4 separate regions of the Homo sapiens genome follow, and regions 2, 3 and 4 are each reported to be linked to region 1. The links are microRNA targets in miRTarBase. Many come from high-throughput screens and were not tested one by one. Region 1 holds a microRNA gene; each other region holds the end of a gene's coding sequence.
What was found. Region 1 holds the annotated microRNA hsa-miR-3202 (UGGAAGGGAGAAGAGCUUUAAU, at 1,772-1,793, opposite strand). A microRNA usually pairs through its seed, bases 2 to 8, with sites in the 3' UTR of a target mRNA and lowers its output. Matches are read on the target gene's strand: a 7mer-m8 pairs with bases 2 to 8, a 7mer-A1 pairs with bases 2 to 7 and ends in A, and an 8mer does both.

Region 1 (5,070 bases):
TAAATTTAATTTTATGTATTTTGTGTAGAGACAGGGTCTCACTTTGTTGCCCAGGCTGGTCTCAAACTCCTGGACTCAAGCAGTCCTCTCACCTTGGCCTTCCAAATTGCTGGGATTACAGATGTGAGCCACCATGCCCAGCTACATATGCTTTTTGATGTATAACAGGGTAATGTCCAGATAAACCCATCATAAGTCGAAAATATAGGAACTGGACTTTCAACTTAAGAGGGGTTTAGCTGGGTGCAGTGGCTCACTCCTGTAATCTCAGGACTTTGGGAGGCCAAGGCAGGAGGATCACTTGAGGCCAAGAGTTCGAGACCAGGCTGGGCAACATGGTGAGACCCTGTCTCTACAATTTTTTTTTTTTTTTTTTTTTAGATGGAGTCGCGCTCTGTCGCCCAGGTTGGAGTGCAGTGGCGCGATCTCAGCTCACTGCAAGCTCCGCCTCCAGGGTTCACGCCATTCTCCTGCCTCAGCCTCCCGAGTAGCTGGGACAACAGGCGCCCACCACCACGCCTGGCTATTTTTTGTATTGTTTTAGTAGAGACGGGGTTTCACCGTGTTAGCCAGGATGCTCTCGATCTCCTGACCTCGTGATCCACCCGCCTTGGCCTCCCAAAGTGCTGGGATTACAGGCATGAGCCACCATGCCTGGCCCAAAATTTTTTTAACAAAAATTAGCAGGGCAGGCCGGGCGCTGTGGTAGGGAGGCTGAGGTAGGAGAATGGCGTGAACCCGGGAGATGGAGCTTGCAGTGAGCCAAGATCGCACCACTGCACTCCAGCCTGGGCAACAGAGCAAGACTCCGTCTCAAAAAAAAAAAAAAAAATTAGCAGGGCAAGGTGGTGGTATATCCCTGGTCCCAACTACTTGGGAGGCTGAGGCAGGAGGATAGCTTGGGCCCAGGAGGTGGAGGCTGCAGTGAGCTGTGATTGTGCCACTGCACCCCAGCCTGGGCAACAGAGCAAGACCCCCGTGTCTAAATAAAAATACCCAGGCCATGGCAGCAGAAAGCAAGGAAGAAGCCACGTGGAAGCCCTCCTGGCGCTTCTTCCAGGGAGGTGAGCAGAGAGCACCTGGGGCCAGGAGGCGGCATGCCTGGGTTTCTGCTCCTCCTCACTGTAACTTTCAGCCAAGTCAAACTGCTAGAGTTTCAGTTTCTTTATCTGTGAAATGCCGGGGCTGGCACAGATGGTTTCTAAGATCCCTCCCAGGCCTGGAACTTCTAAGCGATTAGGTCAAAGGTGAGCTAACCGGGCTGGGCACAGTGGCTCATACCTGTGAATCCCAGCACTTTGGGAGGCTGAGGCGGGTGGATCACTTGAGGTCAGGAGTTCAAGACCAGCCTGGCCAACGTGGTGAAACCCCAACTCTACTAAAAATAGAAAAGTTAGCCGGGCATGGTGGTACACGCCTCTAATCACCGCTACTAGGGAGGCTGAGGCAGGAGAATCACCTGAACCTGGGAGGCGGAGGTTGCAGTGAGCCAAGATTGTGCCACTGCACTCTAGCCTGGGCAACAGAGTGAGACTCCGTCTCAAAAAAAAAAAAAAAGGTGCACAAACCGAGGCCCAAGACAGTTAAGGTGCAAGATCACATGGTTAGTAAGTGGGAGAGCCAAGGTTTGAACAGTCTGGCATCAGCTGACCAGGAACTGGAGCCCACCCTTCTCTCTCCCTGAGCCCGCCTACCCGCCCACCCTCTTGAGTGCGAAATTTATTAATATGGAAGGGAGAAGAGCTTTAATGATTGGAGTCATTTTCAGAGCATTAAAGCTCTTCTCCCTTCCATATTAATGTATTTCTCAGCTACTAGGGCTCACTTACAGCACCAGTGGCCCCAAAGCAGTTGACAGTCAGTGGTAATTAAATTGTCTCTCTGGTTCTGTGACTGAAGGAGACAGAAGGCTTTATGGTGGCCTGAGGAAAGAAGGTGATTTGGGGCTTGGCACTTCAGGAGAGGGCAGGCGAGTGAGCCAGGGAAGCTGGCCTGGGAAGCCTGCGGGTCACCCCCTTGCCTCCCGGCCTGGTGCTTGAGTGGCAGACGGTGAATCCTCCTCCTCCTCCATCCCCCACCTTGTGTCAGAGGCCAGAGCTCGGACTCCATCTAATGGTCTCTAGTTCAGCTGGGTATTTGGTGAAAAGGGCTTTGGGGCTGGAGACGTCCACTTTTATAACACACTGACATGGGAAGGCGCATTCTGAGTTGTAATGACAGAGCTAGACAGGTCTTGTCTGTAGATGCAGTGGCTTTAAGGAAACTAGGACGATGGGCAGGATTTTCCTAGGTGCCAGGAGAAAGGGGTGATAGAGGATTCTAGAGGCTTGAGAGAGTCAGTGTGCAGCGGTTTCACTCTGATTTGCTTCTCCAGTGAAGATGGTTGGTAGCTCCTGAGGCCGGGGGTCAGGAACATGGAGGCGGTGCTGGGGACGGTTTGTTTTCTAACCACACTCCTTTTGTAACCACAAAGGAAAAAGGCAGAACGTTCCTCCGCTGGCGCCAGCCAATCAGCAGGACTCCTGCCTTCCTTCGGGGCAAGGTCGCAGCATCTGCCTCGGAAATCACGAAATCACGGGGCTTCTTTCTGCTGGCTCAGCCGGGAGGCCCAGAGTGTTCTGCAGAGGCTGCGTATTGAAGGCTGCTCTCTGAAGCTCCCTGCCCCAGGTCACGCCGCCGGTTCCAGATGAATCCAGAGTGGGGGCAGGCCTTCGTGCACGTGGCCGTGGCCGGTGGCCTCTGTGCCGTGGCTGTGTTCACGGGCATTTTCGACAGTGTTTCCGTGCAAGTGGGCTATGAGCACTACGCCGAGGCGCCCGTGGCCGGCCTCCCTGCCTTCCTGGCCATGCCGTTCAACTCACTCGTGAACATGGCCTACACGCTGCTGGGGCTGTCGTGGCTGCACAGGGGCGGCGCGATGGGGCTGGGTCCCCGCTACCTGAAGGACGTGTTCGCAGCCATGGCCCTGCTCTATGGCCCCGTGCAGTGGCTGCGCCTGTGGACGCAGTGGCGCCGTGCCGCGGTGCTGGACCAGTGGCTCACACTGCCCATCTTTGCATGGCCCGTGGCCTGGTGCCTCTACCTAGACCGCGGCTGGCGGCCCTGGCTGTTCCTCTCTCTTGAGTGCGTCTCCCTGGCCAGTTATGGCCTCGCTCTGCTGCATCCCCAGGGCTTCGAGGTCGCACTGGGTGCTCACGTGGTGGCCGCTGTGGGGCAGGCGCTGCGCACCCACAGGCACTATGGCAGCACCACCTCGGCTACCTACTTAGCTTTGGGGGTGCTCTCTTGCCTGGGCTTTGTGGTCCTCAAGCTGTGTGACCATCAGCTCGCACGGTGGCGTCTCTTCCAGTGCCTCACAGGCCACTTCTGGTCCAAGGTCTGTGACGTGCTCCAGTTCCACTTTGCGTTTTTGTTTCTGACGCATTTCAACACTCACCCAAGATTCCATCCCTCTGGCGGGAAGACGCGTTGAACCCAGGGAAGAACCTGCTGAAAACCGATGACCCCCAGCATTGAAATGGACTCTGAGATGGCAGCGTGGTGCCAGTGTCAGACATCCTGTGTGTGATGATATGCACTGATCACACAAGACTGCCCTTTCCTGAGAAGCTGCGGGCTTCGGTGTGGAGGGGTGGAGTGCTGTGATCTCGACAACTTACTTTCAAAGACATAAAGCACAGATCTCCGCACAGGGGATGTGTGTGTTCCTGATGTAATTTGCATAACTTTTCTGTAGTTTGAAATGTTTCCAAATAAATATTGGCAAGGGGAGTGGAAATGACACCAAGAAGCCCCTCATGCTCATGGTTGGACAGAGAGCGATCGTCTGGAGTATCTTTGGGGTGTCAGCTCTGGGTGTGGACTGGCAGCAGTGAGGCAGGCCAGTCAGTGGGGTACCAGTGAGTGTCCTTAGAGGCGGCTGGATTCAGGGAGACTGAGTCACACTAAATACGTGCCCAGCAGACTGATGGGGAAATCACTCAATTATCCCCATGACATCTGTGACTGTTAACTGTAGGCAGGTCACGTGAGAGCCACATCACCTCAGATCGTCTGTGGAACCAGGCAGTGTGCATCCAGATGAGGAAACACACAAATGTCAAAAGTTGAACTCTCAACAGAAAGTTGCTTTGTGGGTCTCCCCTCAGAGCCAGGGTGTGGCTTAGATGCCCTTAGTGGCTACAGTCTGAGCAGTCCCCACCTGCCCGTCACCCAGGTCCTTGCGAACCAGTCTGCTGACAGTATCGTCAGGCACTGTGCTGGAGGCGGCACGTGCTTCTCATGCAGGCAACAGTTTTTGAGCCCTCGAGCCCAAGGCCCAGACTCTCTAGTTTGTGGTCAGGATGCTGGGTCATTCTTAGCCGCAGCCAGAGAGGCACTGAGGACTCCGTGCCACCCTCTCTACTCCCGGGACAGTCCTTCCTGCCGGTCACTATGTTACTTAGAGGCCTGCCTCACCTCCTTTCATCTGAAGGCATCTGGTCTGTAAAGGGGACTTCCTTTTTTCGAGACAGAGTCTTGCTCTGTTGCCCAGGCTGGAGTGCAATGGTGTGATCTTGGCTCACTGCAACCTCTGCCTCCCGGGTTCAAGCGATTCTCCTGCCTCAGCTGCCTGAGTAGCTGGGATTACAGGCACCCACCACCACGCCCGGCTAATTTTTGTATTTTTAGTAGAGACGGGGTTTCATCATGTTGGCCAGGCTAGTCTCTAACTCCTGACCTCAGGTGATCCGCCCGCTTCGGCCTCCCAGTGCTGGGATTACAGGCATGAGCTCCCGCGCCCGGCCTGTAAAGGGGACTCCTGAAGACAGGTAATGTCATTTAACTCAGGGGCTCTTCATCCCAGACTCCATAGTCTTGTCCCTGGAGCCTTAAGTACTAAGGAGGGTCTGCTTTAAGCCCACAAATTAAATGGAGAAGTGACCAGCTCCAAAGGTGAGGGCAGAGGAGAGAGGATGCCCTGTCCCTGCCAAATGGCATCTCAGCATGGGCCACCCATGTGCACCTGCTCAGTGCCCTCGAGGTTGGCATTCGGCCCACGACTGTGATGACTGAGATGTTTCTGGAACT
Region 2 (5,070 bases), not on the chromosome of region 1:
CTTCAGCACACAACATGAACTCTCCTATATGCCGGGCATGGTGGCTCACGCCTGTAATCCCAGCACTTTGGGAGGCAGAGGCAGACGGATCACTTGAGGTCAGGAGTTCGAGACCAGCCTGGCCAACATGGTGAAACCCCATCTCGACTAAAAATACAAAAATTAGCTGGGCATGGTGATGGGTGCCTGTAATCCCAGCTACTCAGGAGGCTGAGGCAGGAGAATTGCTTGAACCCGAGATGCGGAGGTTGCAGTGAGCTGAAATCATGCCACTGCACTCCAGCCTGGGTGACAGAGCGAGACTCTATCTAAAAAGCAAATGAAAAAACCAACTCCATCCTATACAACCCCCAGCAAGCCTTTGTTTCCTTGCAGTCAGCTTCTCCCTGGCTGTGTTGCCCATTGCAACTTTGCAATATATTTTCCTACTTTATTTCATAAATCTGCCTTTTTTTTTTTTTTGATGGAGTCTCACTCTGTTGCCCAGGCTGGAGTGCAGTGGTGCAGTCTTGGCTCACTGTAACCTCTGCCTCCTGGGCTGAAGTGATCCTCCCAGTTCCCAAGTAGCTGAGACTACAGGTGTGCATCACCACGCCCTGCTAATTTTGTATTTTTATTTATTTATTACCTTTTTTCGATGGAGTTTCACTCTTGTTACCCAGGCTGGAGTGCAATGACGCGATCTCAACTCACTGCAACCTCTGCCTCCTGGGTTCAAGTGATTCTCTTGCCTCAGCCTCCTGAGTAGCTGGGATTACAGGTGCCTGCCGCCACACCTGGCTAATTTTTGTATTTTTTAGTAGAGGCAGGGTTTTGCCAAGTTGGCCAGGCTGGTCTCAAGCTCCTGACCTCAGGTCATTTACCCACCTCAGCCTCCCGAAGTGCTGGGATTACAGGCGTGAGCCACTGCACCTAGCCAATTTTTGTATTTTTAGTAGAGATGGGGTTTCACTGTTAGTCAGGCTGGTCTTGAACTCCTGACCTCAAGTGATCCGCCCACCTCCCAAAGAGTTGGGATTACAGGCGTGAGCCCATAAATCTGCTTTTTTTTTTTTTTTTTTAACCTACCACTGTCTTGGTAAATTCTTTTACCCCCACACCACCAGCCCAGATAATTGTCACTCACTTGTGACACCCACCTCCTTACCCTGCATTACGGATTGAGTTGTTCTGTCCTCTCAAAATATAGGCTGATGTCCTAACCCTAGTGCCTGTGAATGTAATTTTATTTGGAATCAGGGTCTGTGATCTGAAGAAAGCTAGAAGGGCTGGGCGCGGTGGTTCACGCCTGTAATACCAGCACTTTGGGAGGCTGAGGCCGGTGGATCATGCCATCAGGAGATTGAGACCATCCTGGCTAACACAGTGAAACTCCGTCTCTACTAAAAATACAAAAAATCAGCTGGGCGTGGTGGCACATGCTTGTAGTCCCAGTTACTCGGGAGGCTGAGGCAGGAGAATCACTTAAACCCTGGAGGCAGAGATTGCAGTGAGCTGAGATCGTGCCACTGCACTCCAGCCTGGGCGACAGAGCAAGACATCTGTCTCAAAAAAAGAAAAAGAAAAAGAAAGCTAGAAGAAAAAAAAAAGGGAATCAGGATCTTTGCAGATATGATTAAGTTATGACAAGGGCATACTGGTAGGATGGGCAAAACTCCAATATGACTGATGCCCTTAGAAGAGAAGAGATACAGTGGGAAGTCAGCCAGAGATTGGACTGATTCAGCCACAAGCCAAGGAGAACCTGGGGCCACCAGAAACTGGCAGAGACAAGGAAGGATCCTTCCCTAGCACCTCTGGAGTGGGCATGGCCCTGATGCCACCTTGTTTTCAGACTTCAGGCCTCTAGGGCTGTGGGAGAATAAATATCTGTTGTTTTAAGCTGCCCTATTTGGGGCATTTTGTTATAGCAGCTTGAGGGGACTAATACACCTAGCATGATTTTTTTTCTTCTTTTTTTTTGTTGGTCGGGGGATAGAGTCTCACTCTGTTGCCCAGGCTGGAGTGTCAGTCTCGTCTCACTGCAACCTCCATCTCCTGGGTTCAGGCGATTCTCCTGCCTCAGCCTCTGAAGAAGCTGGGACTACAGGCGTGTGCCACCATGCCAGCTAATTTTTGTATATATATATATTTTTTATAAGTAGAGATGGGGTTTCACTATGTTGGCCAGGCAGGTCTCGAACTCCTGACCTCAGGTGACCCACTCGATTTGGCCTCCCAAAGTGCTGGGATTACAGGTGTGAGCCACCGTGCCTGGCCTGATTCTTCTTTATATGGGCATCTGACACTGTATACATTTACAGTGGACCCTCACTATTTGCAAATGCCATATTTGTGCATTTATCTGCTCATCAAAACTTCTTTGTAACCCCCAAGTCAAGACTCTCAACACACACACGGCAGCAAAATATCAAGTTGCCCAACACAGACGTTCGTTCCCAGCTGAGGTTGAATAAGGCGACATTCTGCCCTCGTTTTGGCTCTCGTACCATAAACACGCGTCCTTTTCTTGGTTTATCTAGTCCCACGCTTTTCACATTTTTGTGCTTTTTGTTGGTGACTCATTGTTTAAAATGGGCCCAAGCGTACAGCTGAAGTGCGGTCTAGTGACCTTAAAGCACCAAGAAGCTGTGATGTGCCTTTGGAGAAAAGATAAAATATATGTGTGAAATAGGCTTGCTCCAGGTTCCAGTTATAATGCTGTTGGCATGACTTCAATGTGAATGAATCAACAATATAAATGAAATAAGGTATCTTTAGGGCTGGGCGTGGTGGCTCACGTCTGTATTCCCAGCACTTTGAGAGGCCAAGGCCAGAGGATCACTCGAGCCGTGGAGTTCCAGACCAGCTTGGGCAACATAGTGAGATCCCATTGCTACAGAAAGATTAAAAAAAAAAATAGCTAAGCGTGGTGGTGCGCCTATAATCCCAGCTACTCGGGAGGCTGAGGTGGGAGGATCACTTGAGCCTGGGAGATCAAGGCTGCAGTGAGCCACGATCGTGCCACTGCACTCCAGCCTGGGTGACAGAGTGAGCCCGTCTCAAAAATACATAAAGAAGTGTTTTTAAACAGCAACACATGTAAACTAAGGTGATGTATTGACTGAACTGTGGTGATCAGAGGCCCTTAGAAACCTAACCCTGTCTCCCTGGGGGCAATGGCTCAGTATTCACTAATTCTCAGAGTGTATGCAGAGATTATAGAACCTTACCGGAAATAAGAAGAACTGGCTTGATCTGGCTTAGCTGTTTACCACCCGCCTTCCCCACTAACAAGTCAGCTTACCGGCTTAGCAGGGACTCTTGTCTGCCTTGTTCATGTTGAACCCCCTGAGCCTAGAACGGGGCCTGGTACTCAGCAGGTGCTCAACAGATGCATGCGGAAGAAGGCCTCACAATCCCAGATCCAAACACTCCCCCACCCTCACAAACCCAAAAGCAATGGGCCAAGGGGGCATGAGTACAGTTTTAAAAAAAGGATCGGTTTTTAATTTACAAGAGTTCTAAATGTACAGAATTCTCCTTTAAAAAAATCGTTATACACAATAAATACAGTACAAAAAAATTTATCTTACAGTACTAGTTTTGTCTCCGAGATTTCAAAATCTGGCGCGGGCGGCTGGAGGCAGGAAGAACAGAGGGAAGACTAGCTGGGGAGAGGTTCGGGGGAGAGGAAGACCCCAGTTTCTTGTTTTGCTCAGATTTCAAAGTCGAGGGGTGGGCGTTCGAAATCTCTCACTCACTTGTGCACACACACACACACACAGGTCACGGAGCTGGACGTGCGGATGTCACACGGGTGCCTGCGGGCACAGCACGCTGGGAGGCTGGCTCCCCCACCCCCTCTCCGGTTTTGTTTGACAGCCTGTTGGGGGCGGCGGGGAGAGGCTGAGACTGTCTGGAAGGACCCTGCCAGCTCCCAGCACCCTCCACCATCTGAGAAGCCACACAGACAAGACAGGCACCCGGAGCGTTGGCATCAACCCGGTGGCCCCATCCCTGGCAAACACATGCGCGTGTCCCCCGGACAGAGGGGCAGAGTGTGCCAGGAAATGGGAAGAAACAGGAACTGACACAGCACTTTGCCCCTCCTTTGGCAGGGGAGACGTTTTACATCACAGCCCCCTCCCTAAATCCACGCCCACCCCCCAGCAACCCAGCTGAAGCAGGCGGCAGGGAAGGAGGCCTTTGTGACTCAAATAACTTAGGCAAGAAAAACCGTCAGGGGATCCCCGGCTCGAGTCCCCAGGAGGCTGAGGGCGGACACCCGACTGTCCCGGCGTCTTCGGGAGGAGGGGACGGGGAAGGGGAGGCGGCCCGGTGTTATCTGGTCAACGTCCTGGCGCCGAGGCCACCGTTGTGACTGGAGGGTGGGTAGGCCTCGGGCCTGTGCAGGGGCGGCGGGGATGCGGGGGTGCCGGCCGAGGCAGCGTGGGGGTACGAGGGCGCGGGCGTCCGGCCGGGGGCCTGCTGCAGGTTCAGGATGCTGTCGATGGCGCTCTGCAGGTGCTCGGTGAGCGTGTCATCCTGCGGGCTGTCGCTGGAGAAGCTGGCCTGGTCCACGTCGGGCGACTCGGACTTGCGCCGCTTGGCAGGGGGCAGCCCGGGCGCCTCCCAGTCGGGGTCCCCGGTGCCTTGGGCGGCGCTGGCTGCGGGCTCTGGCGGGGGGCCCTTCAGCATACGCTGGTACAGCTCGTCCTCCACGGCCGCCAGCTCGCGGATGAGCCCGCTGGTGGCCTCGTCCACTTTGGCGGGCAGCGGCGCCGGGCTGCCTCCCCGTGCCCTGCCTGCGGGCGTCCCCTCCGGCGCGCCAGGGCCCCCCACGTTCTCGCGGTAGGTCTTGCGCAGTGGCAGGCGCGGGCAGTGCGGGGCGGTGCCCAGGGGCTTGCGCTCGGGGGCGGCAGGCGGCGGGTGGTCCACCGTGCCGTTCATCTGGCCCGTGGGCGGCGGTGGTGGTGGCGGCCGTGGCGGGGGCTCGGCCACCTTGAGGGTAGCGGGGGGTGGCGGGGGCTGGTGCACGGGGTCCAGGGCCGTGTTGTGCACGACCTTGCTGAGCCCGGCTTCCTGCTT
Region 3 (5,070 bases), not on the chromosome of region 1:
TTGAACCCACTCTGTGTACCCTGTCAGGCTGTGCGGGAGTGGGAGCGAAGTGAGGAGAGGGGCAGGTGGGAGAGCCGACCCTAAGTGGAGGACAGGCCCGCTCCTCCGGGGCCCTGGGCCTGAGACACCAACCTCAATATCCGGTCTAGGACGCAGTGTGGAGGGGCTTGCTTTCTCCAACCCTTTCTGACCTGGCATCTTACCCCAGGTAAATACTGGGGCTGCATGCAGCGCCTGGCCTCCTGTCCAGACTCCTGGGTGCCTAGAGTGCCAGGGGCTGACAAAGAAGAAGTGGAGGCAGTGACCGCACTGGCGTCCCTCTCTGTGGGCATCCTGGCTGAAGATAGGTAATGCCAGACCCCTGGCCCTGGGCCCACAGCCTCTCCACCGCTTCATTCCTCCCTGCTTGAAGACCCCGGGTCCGCTATGCAGCCACCCCAACCCTCCCAGGCTTCCTGACCAGGGTTGAGAGGAAGCTTAGCTAAGGCCCTTGCTGCAGCCCTGGTGCTCCAGCATCCCACCCTTGTCCCTCCCCACAGGCCCTCGGAGCAGCTGGTGGAGGAGGAAGAACCTATGAATCTCTAAGGCTCTGGAACCATCTGCCCGCCCACCATGCCCTTGGGACCTGGTTCTCTTCTAACCCCTGGCAATAGCCCCCATTCCTGGGTCTTTAGAGATCCTGTGGGCAAGTAGTTGGAACCAGAGAACAGCCTGCCTGCTTTGACAGTTATCCCAGGGAGCGTGAGAAAATCCCTGGGTCTAGAATGGGAACTGGAGAGGACCCTGAGAGGAGACGGGCTGGGCGGCGACCCCCACAGGGCTCTCGAGAACAGATTCTCCCCTCCAGTATGGGCCCTGGCTGTGGCCCCCATTCCTCAGGACTGCACAGAGGAGGACTGGCTCCGGCTCCGTCGGGCTCACCCTTAACCACTATTCCTGGCTCTGCAAACCCCAGACTTTGCACACAGCCTCAGGCTCCACACAGAAATGTGAACTTGGCCTCAGACAGGCTGGCCCTTCCTAGGCTCTAGGGGCTAGGGGGGAGTGGGGAGCCAAGAGGTCCCATATTCCTGAGTGCAGGGGTAGTCCCTCTCACCTGCTTCCTCAGACGACTCTGGAAGCTTCCCTCTACCACTGGGCACTGAGACGAAGCTCCCTGACAGCCGAGACTGGCAGCCCTCCATCTGGTCCGTACCCTCGCCAGAGGCCCCCCTACATCAACCTCCTGGCGATGCCCTGGTGGAGCAGATGGGTGCTCTGGGAGTCCTGTGCTTCCTGATCCAATGGTGCCAAACCCTTCATCTCCCCAAGAAGCGCAGCATACCCCTGGGACCCCTCGGCCACTGCCCACTCGGGGAGCCTTCTCTGTTTCTGGGGCCTCCCCCACCATAGCTCTGATTCCCACCCCACATAGGAGTAGCCTGACTGAGGGGGAAGGGGTGGGAGAGAAGATACAGACATGGAGGAGGGGAGGCTGCTCTGGCAAAGTCTTCAAGGCTTTTGGGGGTCCAGGCCTGGGGTCAAGAAGGAAAATGTGTGTGAGCATGTGTGTGAGTGAGGCGTGTGTGTGAGCGTGTGTGTGAGTGAGGCGTGTGTGTGTGTCTTTCCTAGGACCCACCATACCCTGTGTATGTATGCATGTTTTTGTAAAAAGGAAGAAAATGGAAAAAAATCTGAACAATAAATGTTTTATTTGCTTTAAAAGTGCCTCTGAAAGGGCCCCCCAGAAGTGAGCAGTGCGCCGTCAAGCGGGTGTGCAGGGCACACAGCTGCACGGCACAGTGTGGGTCTGAGTCACTGCCGGAGGAGGGACCAGGGTGGTCTGGGCCGCAGCCCCTTTAACAATCTGCCCTTCCTGCCCTGCAGGAAGAACCCATTCTGAACACACCCTGGCTGTCCCTGGCTGCCCCACTTTGGGGTGACAAAGAGGAGGCAGCCCTGGGCTGAGTCCACAGAGACCAGCCCTGATATGGCAGGAGTGGGGGTGGGGTGGGGGAGTGGGAATACAGGAGCTCAGCCCCAGCTCACCACGGCATCCCCGAAGAGTTGTGACTCAGACACACCTGGGTTTAAGTCCCAGCTGGGAGCTCAGGTAAGTCAAATCGTCTTCTGGGGCCTCTGTTTATCAGTAGAAGGCTCCAGAAGTATACACTGTTGATGGCTCCTTCCCGCTCTGATGCACCATGCCTGATTAAGCATACACTGAGCCTAGAAGAGAGAAGGGGTGAGGCACAGGCCTGGACAAGCTCACCCAGCCTAAGCAGAGAGGAAGGCGCCAGGCTGGCAGCACCTGCCTTTGTGGTTCTGAGTCTGTCCGGTTTTTCCAGCAGGAAGAGGAGCACCTCATTACCTTAGACCTGGCCCAAGCTCCTGGCAGCCTGGCAGAGTGTGAGGGAAGAGGCGCTAATCCCTTTCCCATCTGGCCTGGCCTCTCGGGTGTGGACACCAAATCCCGCAGGGGTTGCTGTAGCTATGCCCGTGGGCATCCTTGCCCTGGCTGGGGTGTGCTAGAGAGAGGAAAGCTGGAGGAGGAGAGCTGAGCTGGTGGTTACCCCATGCCAGGAGGGCCAAGGCAAGAGGGCCTGCAGCCCCAGAGATACTGACTCTGTCCCCTGCCCTCCAGGGCACAACTGAACTAGCGGAATGGCTTAATCAGATAGCTCGAGAACTGCCACTACCACTCCCTCCCTGCCCACTCCTCCCAAAGTCCACCTGTTCCCGCAAGAGTCCCACCTCACAAGCAACCACCAGAGGCTGATACAAATGGCCGCTGTATTTTTGCTAAAGTGACAGTGACACAGATAAGGCAAAGAGCTGAGGGGCAGGACACATCAGATGGGAAGGGGGAGACCGTGCAAAATGGCAGTCTAACAGAAAATCATCCTTGTACCAACAGCCCCTTCCCTCCCAAGTTAGGTGAGCCCTTGGGCCAGTGTATGGGCAGAAAAGCAGATTTGTGTCCTTCAGAAGGGAAATGTAAAAAGGTGAAAGCTCTAGTTGAAGGGCAGTGAGAGGGGCTGGAGTGGGAGAGAAGGTCTCTCCTGGCCGGTGGTCTGGGTGCAGCAAGGGCACTCTGAGAAGGCAGAATGGAAACGCAGGGCTGGAGGGGCATGGGTACAGGTTTGGGGGCTCTTTCCAGCCTCTACTATGTTGCCCCCTTCCCCAAAGCCCTTACAGGGGCAGAAGCACATTCCCCGTGACCCTGAGTCTGGCCTCATTTGGGAAGTCTTCTGGGGTGTATGGATGCCTGTGTGTGTGAGTGAGATGGGTGGGGGGCCACGGCTATCTGGCTCTAGCACACTCATGGGAGACCAGCTCTGGGAACAACAGGATGGGGTGCTGGGATGGGGGTTTAAGAGGTCTCTGCTAGATATTTCTGAACTGACCTCCCCAGGTGCCCAACCTGGCCTTGGGAAGAGAGTGCCTAGGGCAGCGGGGATGGAAACCCTTGCCTGCAGCATAGGTCCAGGCCTCATGGCCCTACACCTTGACCTCTTGACTTTGTTGCCCTGGCCTTAAGTACAAAGATTCCTCACTGCGTGCTAAGAAAACAGATCCAGGCCGGGCACGGTGGCTCACACCTATAATCCCAGCACTTTGGAAGGCTGAGGCGGGTGAATCACCTGAGATCAGGAGTTCGAGACCAGCCTGGCCAACATGGCAAAACCCTGTCTCTACTAAAAACACAAAAATTTGCCGGGCATGGTGGCAGATGCCTGTAATCCCAGCTACTTGAGAGGCCAAGGCAGGAGAATTGCTTGAACCTGGGAGGCGGAGGTTGCAGTGAGCTGAGATCGCACTACTGCACTCCAGCCTGGGTGACAGAGTAAGACTCCATCTCAAAAAAAAAAAAAAAAGAAAAAAAAAAGAAAGAAAAGAAAACAGATTCATTTGAAAAGGTCTAAAGCTGCCCTCTGGCCAGGCTGATGAGGAGCAACATGGCAGGATCCCCTCTCTACCACACTCAGGTTTCCTCGAAAGGGGACGGGCAGGACAGCTTCCTGGGAGACCACACTCGTCCTGCTGTGTATTTTCTGCCACAGTTCTGGGGTCACCAGGGGGTGGGAGTAGCCTCTCCCAACATCTCAGAGGCTGAGTCCAGGTCCTAAGGCCCCCCCAGGGTGCAGAGACCTCACCCCCTGGGTCAGAAATCGCTGAGGATGCTGATGTCAGCAAAGTCAGCCCGGTAGCGGTGGGCATAGAGGCTGAGCAGGAAGGCCCACTTGAAGGAAATGAAGCTCCAGACGCTGGAGAGGTAGTAGCTGGTGGGGTCTGTGAGGCCTGCAGGGAGAGAAGTACCGACAGTGACTTTGGCAGGCCCTGCCCTCGGCCTCTGCACCGGCCACAAGGCCAGGGCCACCCTCCCCACTCAACATCCCTGCAACGTCCTGGCAGCTGAACCAACCCTTCAGAAAGACACTGTGATGGAGGTTTTAGAGCCATGGTCCCCAACCTTTTTGGCACCAGGGACTGGTTTTGTGGAAGACAATTTTTCCACAAAAACCTTGGGATGGTTTGGGGATGAAACTGTTCCACCTCAGATCGTCAAACATTAGATCATCAGGGGCACGCAACCCTCGCATGCGCCTCACAACAGGGTTTGCGCTTCTAATGCCCGCCGCTGACCTGACAGGAGGCAGAGCTCAGGCGGTAAGGCTCGCTTGCCCCTCACCTGCTGTGTGGCCTGGTTCCTAACAGGCCACGGACCACTACTGTTCCACAGCCTGGAACAGTAGAACGGAGCTGGGGACCGTTTTAGAGTATTCCAGGGTTTTCAGGCAGGAGGCCGTGGGGATTAGGGAAGGGCAGGGCTGGCCAATCACAGGTCTGTATCATCCACTCCGCTTTTGTGACAAATACCCTAGGCCACCTCCAACCTGCTTTAGTTAGCATCAGACTCCCGGAAGAAGGACCTCTGGTTATTTCCAGCCACAGCCACCAGAGGGCGCTCCCATCCCAGAGCTGAGCACAGACTAATGGGTCCCAATATCAGGAGTGCTTGTATGGGCTATGCACTGCTCAAGACTTCACATCAGTTTCATAGAATCCACCCAACTTGCGAGGTGGGGA
Region 4 (5,070 bases), not on the chromosome of region 1:
GGGCATCCGTCAGCAGCCAGCAGCTGGCTGGACAAAGAATCTCTGGGGAATCGGGTGAAAGGCAGGTGGGGTGTGGTCCAGGAGGCAACACCAGAGCAGGCCACAGTGGTGTGCAGGGAAAAAAACAGGGCCTGGCTACGGGAGACCCCAACTCTGCCCCTAATCAGCTGTGTAGCATCAGGCAGGTTGCCACCACGCCCTGGACTTCATTTCCTCTTCTGTAAAACGATGGGGTTGGACTAGAACAGGACCCTCTAGCTCCACAACCACGGTCTTTCTGCGCACAGAATGAGAGGCAGTGGAGCTCCCTAACAGAGGGCCCATTGAGAGCAGGGACAAAAGCCTCTGGAATTCCCTCCAGCCTCCATCAGGGACACAGGCAGTTTTCTTCCCTCTGGTTTCTGTCCTCAGGCAACCCCTGGCCCAAGCTCCTAACTGCACTAGAGATCTGTGAACTCACTCTCTTTCCCTCCTAGAAGGAAAGAGGAAGCCAGAGAGGCAGAAAGGAGGCCAGCAGCAGGGCGTGAGGCACAATGAGATAGAATGGGAGGACCTCACATGGAGGGACGCTACAGAGGACCAGGACAGAAGACACACACACCAAGAGCAAACAACCAAACTTTATCCAGAAAAGCATATTTGTAATCACCACTAAACAATGAGGCACATCGGTCCCCTCTCCCCAACCACCCTCACTCTTCCCAAACCCACTCTCTCTTTTGGCTTTTATAGAACACTGTAGAAATCCTTTCCTGAGTCTGCAAATGGCCCCAGACTGGGATGGGAGCTGCCCAGAGTAGTCTTGGGCTGGACTGAGTCCTGGTGCCCAGAGAGGGAGACCTATGCAACTGCCTCCAGTATCCAAAAGTTCTGGGGGCAGGTCGGGTGGCCACCCCTATGGCACAGGGCCTTGAGGGAGGGTGAGTGTGGTGGCGGTCTTACGTGTTCTTCTCATACCTGGCAGACAGAGTGAGCACAAGCCGCTGGAAGCCAAGCGGGAAGGCACATCTAGAAGGGCAGTGAGCTCTGGAATGCTACAGGCACGTGTGGATGGATGAGGCTCCATGGCGGCCAAGGAGATATCTGCTCCTGAGTAAGGTCACCTGACCACAGACAGCACCAGGGGCTGGGGGGCTAAGAAGGAGATCTTGAGAAGGATGGACCTGAGCTAAAGATGTAACTTAGATGGTGATCTGAAAAAAGGAAAAAAGAATAAACGCTGGAACTCAAATCCACTGTTTAGGGTACAGGAGTACACAGCTAAGTTCCAGGTATCCAGAATCTTGTGTCCAAATCATAGCACAAGGAGAACAGGAATTCTCTTGAGTTAAGGCAAAATCAATCTTCACCCATCTGGGCTCTTCCATTGCATGGTTTGGAAAGGAAGGGGCTGGGCAGAGATCATTCCTCTCCCCATCTCCCCCTACTGCCAGTGAAGACTCTGAAAGCTTCTGCAGGCCAAGGCCAGAATGGTGTTGCCAGCCCAGGGCAGCGGGCCCTGAGAGCGGTCGGTGTGACCAGCTCTGGGAATCTCCATGGCCTCAGCAACATGGAAACCTGCAACAGGAGAACCAAAGTCAAAGGGCTTCCAAAGCACCCCAAGTGTCTCACCCCAGGCTCTCACTGCACCAGCACTTGGGGCTGAGGGGACTCCTAGTCTCAAGCCTCGGCCCCCCAAAGTGCTGGGATTACAGACATGAGCCACTGCGACTAGCTGTGAATGTTCTTAATGCCACTGAACTATACACTTAAAAATGGTTAAGATGGTAAATTTTATGTATATTTTACCACAATTTAAAAAATAGCTACATTAACAGTATCTAACATGTATTGATACCCTACTATATAGAGTATAGCCTGGTCATGAAGAGGCCAGGCTGCCAGGGTTCAAATCCTACCTCTACCACTCATTAGCTGGGAGACCTTGGGCAAGGTATTTAACCTCTCTGGGATTCAACCTCCTCATTTGGAATATGGCAATGACATTAGAACCCACCTCATTAGGGTTACTGAGAGAATCAATGGACACCTATAAAATGCTTTGAGACGTGCCAACCATATAATAGAGCTACATAGGTGCTCTGATGGCAACATATCTAGAACTACATTCATGCTTCACACACCCTGAAACTACACCTTTGCAGCCTCCACAGAGAAAGCTAACACCTGTGCACCTAAGCTTTAAAAACAAGCTCACAAAAACACGCAGCCTCCCCTCTTCTAGTTTCTAATCCAGAGAAGGTTGAGCCTTTTCAAACAGCAGACCTGGCCAGGCACAGTGGCTGAGATCTGTAATCCCAACACTCTGGGAGGCTGAGACGGGAGGATCTCTTGAGCCCAGGAGTTCGAGACCAGCATGCAAAATACAATGGGGCCCTGTCTCTACAAAAATTTAAAAACTAGCCAGGCATGGTGGTATGTGCCTGTAGTCCCAGCTACCCGGGAGGCTGAGGTGAGAGGATCGCTTCAGTCTGGGAGGTCGAGACTGCATTGAGCCATAATCACATCACTGCACTCCAGCGTGGGTGACCCAGTAAGACTGCCTCAAAAACAAAACAAAAGAGAAAGAAAAAATAAAAGAGCAGACCATTGAAGGATTTAGCAAAAAGGTTGAATTTTCACAACTCTGTAGATATTGTGGTTATTACCGTCACCTCTCCAACTTGCTCTGAATAAAAACCCTTTAACTTCTGGAAAAGGAGTAGGCTCTGTGCTTTTTATTCAAATGCCCAGGACCCCTTCCAGAAAACCAAGAAGCGTCTTACCTTACAGGCCCAGCCAGCAGGTCACCCCAGCGCCAGAGAGTGGTTCTTCTCTTTGGTAAGGGAGACCCACCCTGTCAGCTGCTCCAGATCAGTGCCGGGATCTCTTGCAGGTGACTTTCCTTTAGCCTGGGAAAACCATCTGAATAACTTTGGCTTCATTTCTCCAACAATGTAAAGGAATGTTCAAATTCCCCAGTTCAGGTCTCTGGCTAGAGGCAGCAATCTACTTCCTCACTGGGGTGGGTCCCCTCCCTCTGCTAGAGAATTCCCTGGGGAAGAAAGAGAAGGCGCCCCCCAAATCTTCAAACAGAACACAGCCAATGGGTTGGGCCCTTCGGCATGAATGAGAGCCGGGACAGCACAGGGATGCTGGGAATCTTAAGGTGGGAATACTGCTCCAGGCCCAGGAGCAGTTAATACAGCAAACTAAATTATTTCTGTAACAGCGGGACTTCTCAGTCTTTGATAAGCTAATGAGCATCTCCAAGAAAGGGAGACAGCACCGTTGACAAACCCATTTGGCCTTGAAACCCTCTTTTAGGAGAGGCGGCTCCTGAGCCAGGGGTCCTGACTCACCCACCCTTTTAATGCAAACAGCGCTGGACTGCAAGTCTGGGTTCCAATCTTACTCTGGCTGTTCCCAAGAGCAGGCTCTGGGTCCCCATCTGTAAGAAGGGGTGGGGTTCACCTTAACATTCCACCATGGTCGTGGAACTCCTAATGCAAACAGATATGGGGGAGGGTGGAGATGAGGGGGGCGGCAGAAGCCTGTGAGGAAGGCTGGGAAGAGACTTGTGTCACGGAGAGGCCAGGACAGTTAGTGTGTGTTTGGCACTGGCCTGCAAAAACCTTAAGGACAAAGGCGGAGTAGGTAGAGGCAAGAGGAGACTCCACAAGTGTAAGGGTACAACCCACCGGCTTCTCCTATCGGTCCCCACCTCGGCGGATGGGCCCCACCCCAAGACAACCGAGCACAGAGAGACCGGCTGGGAGGAGCTTCGCAGGATGCCAGCACAATCCCCAGCTAAAACCAAACTCGTCGCTCATCCTGGGACCAGCCAAGGCCTGTCCTCAGCTCCGCCCGCGGCCCAGCGCCTGCGTTTTACAGCACCGGAGGCTGGATGAGGGGCCAGGGAAGGGAGTGCTCTTCCGACCACGGGGCGGGAGGGAAGGGGGCAGCCAGAAGCCTGGTTCCAATTTGGGAGCCTCCCCCGGATCTGCGCGGCCCCTGTCCACGTCTTAGTCTCAGCAGGGAAGGGAAGAGGAACCGCGAGGTTTCGCCTCGGGGCGGCTCGTCTGCGAGTGTGTGTCAGCCCCTCGGATCGCAGCCTGCGCTTGTCCCGGGAGACGGCGCGTCCGGCGCGGCGGTCGGGATTCTGGGCTGGGATTCTGGGCGGCGGCGGCGCTGCCGTCGGGCGGGAGCTGAGCGTCAGGGTTCCCGGGCGCGGGCGACAGTGGAAACGCTGGAGGGCAGGGAGAGGGTGCCAGGGCGCACCCGCGCGGGGCGGCGGCGGGGGAAGGGATTAAGGAGGCTGGTCTCCGGGGATTCCCCCGCCCCGATCGGGGCCGCGGCGGGCGCGGGCGGCCTCACGCCACCTCCTGCTTGCCCTGGCAGCGACGCCCGCAGCCATAGAGCGCCGAAAGCAGGTAGAGGCCGTGGCAGACGCCGCCGCAGACGGCGGCCGCCAGGAAGGCGTGGTAGGCGCAGGGGAGCGGGTAATCCTTGAGGTTGCAGTAGCTGTGGCGCTGCATCTGGTCGCTCATGATGCCGGTGGCGGCGCCGTAGAGCGCGGCCGCCAGCACATCGTGCGCCACGTTGACCATGAGCCAGCGCGAGCCCAGCACGGGGACCAGCTCGTGCTTGCCCAGCAGCGTGAGGAAGTAGAGGCCCAGGGTGAGCAGCCAGAAGAGCACGGACACGAAGAGCGCGAAGTGCACGGGGCCCTGGTACTTGCTGGTGGCGATAGTGATCCAGAAGGCAGCGCCGGCCAGCAGCTGCAGCAGCCGCAACACGCCCAGCGGGCTGCGCAGGAAGGGCCGCTGCAGGCGCACCGCGCCGCGGGCCGCACGCGCCTGGGGCGGCGGCTGGCGCGGGGGCGGCGGGAGCATGGCCCCTGGGCGCGGTGGCGGCGGCGGCGGCGCCCCGAGCAGCGGAATGGCGGCGCCTTGCTCGCGGGGGCAGCACGGCCCAGGTGCCCGCTGCGCCCGCCGCGGCCTCCTCGCCTTGCTCCCCTCTTAGTCCTCTCTTCCTCTCCTCCTTTCCCCACCCTTCCTCTCCTCTCTCCTCCCCTCGGCCCTCCTCGCC

Region 2: the mRNA of BICRA is a reported target of hsa-miR-3202. Seed matches in the 3' UTR shown: 7mer-m8 at 4,303-4,309 and 7mer-A1 at 3,900-3,906.
Region 3: the mRNA of SLC48A1 is a reported target of hsa-miR-3202. Seed matches in the 3' UTR shown: 7mer-A1 at 3,599-3,605 and 7mer-m8 at 2,839-2,845.
Region 4: the mRNA of MARVELD1 is a reported target of hsa-miR-3202. Seed matches in the 3' UTR shown: 7mer-m8 at 4,281-4,287, 7mer-m8 at 4,018-4,024, 7mer-m8 at 3,933-3,939, 7mer-m8 at 3,899-3,905 and 7mer-m8 at 1,383-1,389.

Annotation. Positions count from the first base shown.
Region 1 is chrX:153,979,377-153,984,446 of GRCh38, forward strand. It overlaps MIR3202-2 (microRNA 3202-2), which reads right to left and starts at 1,800; the gene lies at 1,722-1,800. TMEM187 (transmembrane protein 187) reads left to right here. Exons shown (of 2, transcript NM_003492.3): 2 at 2,474-3,818. The coding sequence starts at 2,687. The coding sequence ends at 3,472. It overlaps MIR3202-1 (microRNA 3202-1), which reads left to right and starts at 1,721; the gene lies at 1,721-1,801. RefSeq lists enhancers at 1,098-1,207, 5,015-5,064.
Region 2 is chr19:47,701,669-47,706,738 of GRCh38, reverse strand. It overlaps BICRA (BRD4 interacting chromatin remodeling complex associated protein), which reads right to left. Exons shown (of 15, transcript NM_001394372.1): 15 at 3,462-5,070. The coding sequence ends at 4,324. Among named protein-coding and RNA genes, the nearest start is that of EHD2, 9.2 kb to the left of the region's middle.
Region 3 is chr12:47,779,356-47,784,425 of GRCh38, reverse strand. SLC48A1 (solute carrier family 48 member 1) reads right to left here. Exons shown (of 3, transcript NM_017842.3): 3 at 1,675-4,281. The coding sequence ends at 4,145. HDAC7 (histone deacetylase 7) reads left to right here. Exons shown (of 26, transcript NM_015401.5): 25 at 209-347; 26 at 540-1,704. The coding sequence ends at 585. Among named protein-coding and RNA genes, the nearest start is that of SLC48A1, 8.7 kb to the right of the region's middle. RefSeq lists a silencer at 4,841-4,890.
Region 4 is chr10:97,713,681-97,718,750 of GRCh38, reverse strand. MARVELD1 (MARVEL domain containing 1) reads right to left here and starts at 5,021. Exons shown (of 2, transcript NM_031484.4): 1 at 2,766-5,021; 2 at 601-1,557. The coding sequence starts at 4,874. The coding sequence ends at 4,353. RefSeq lists a silencer at 4,130-4,349 and an enhancer at 4,660-4,709.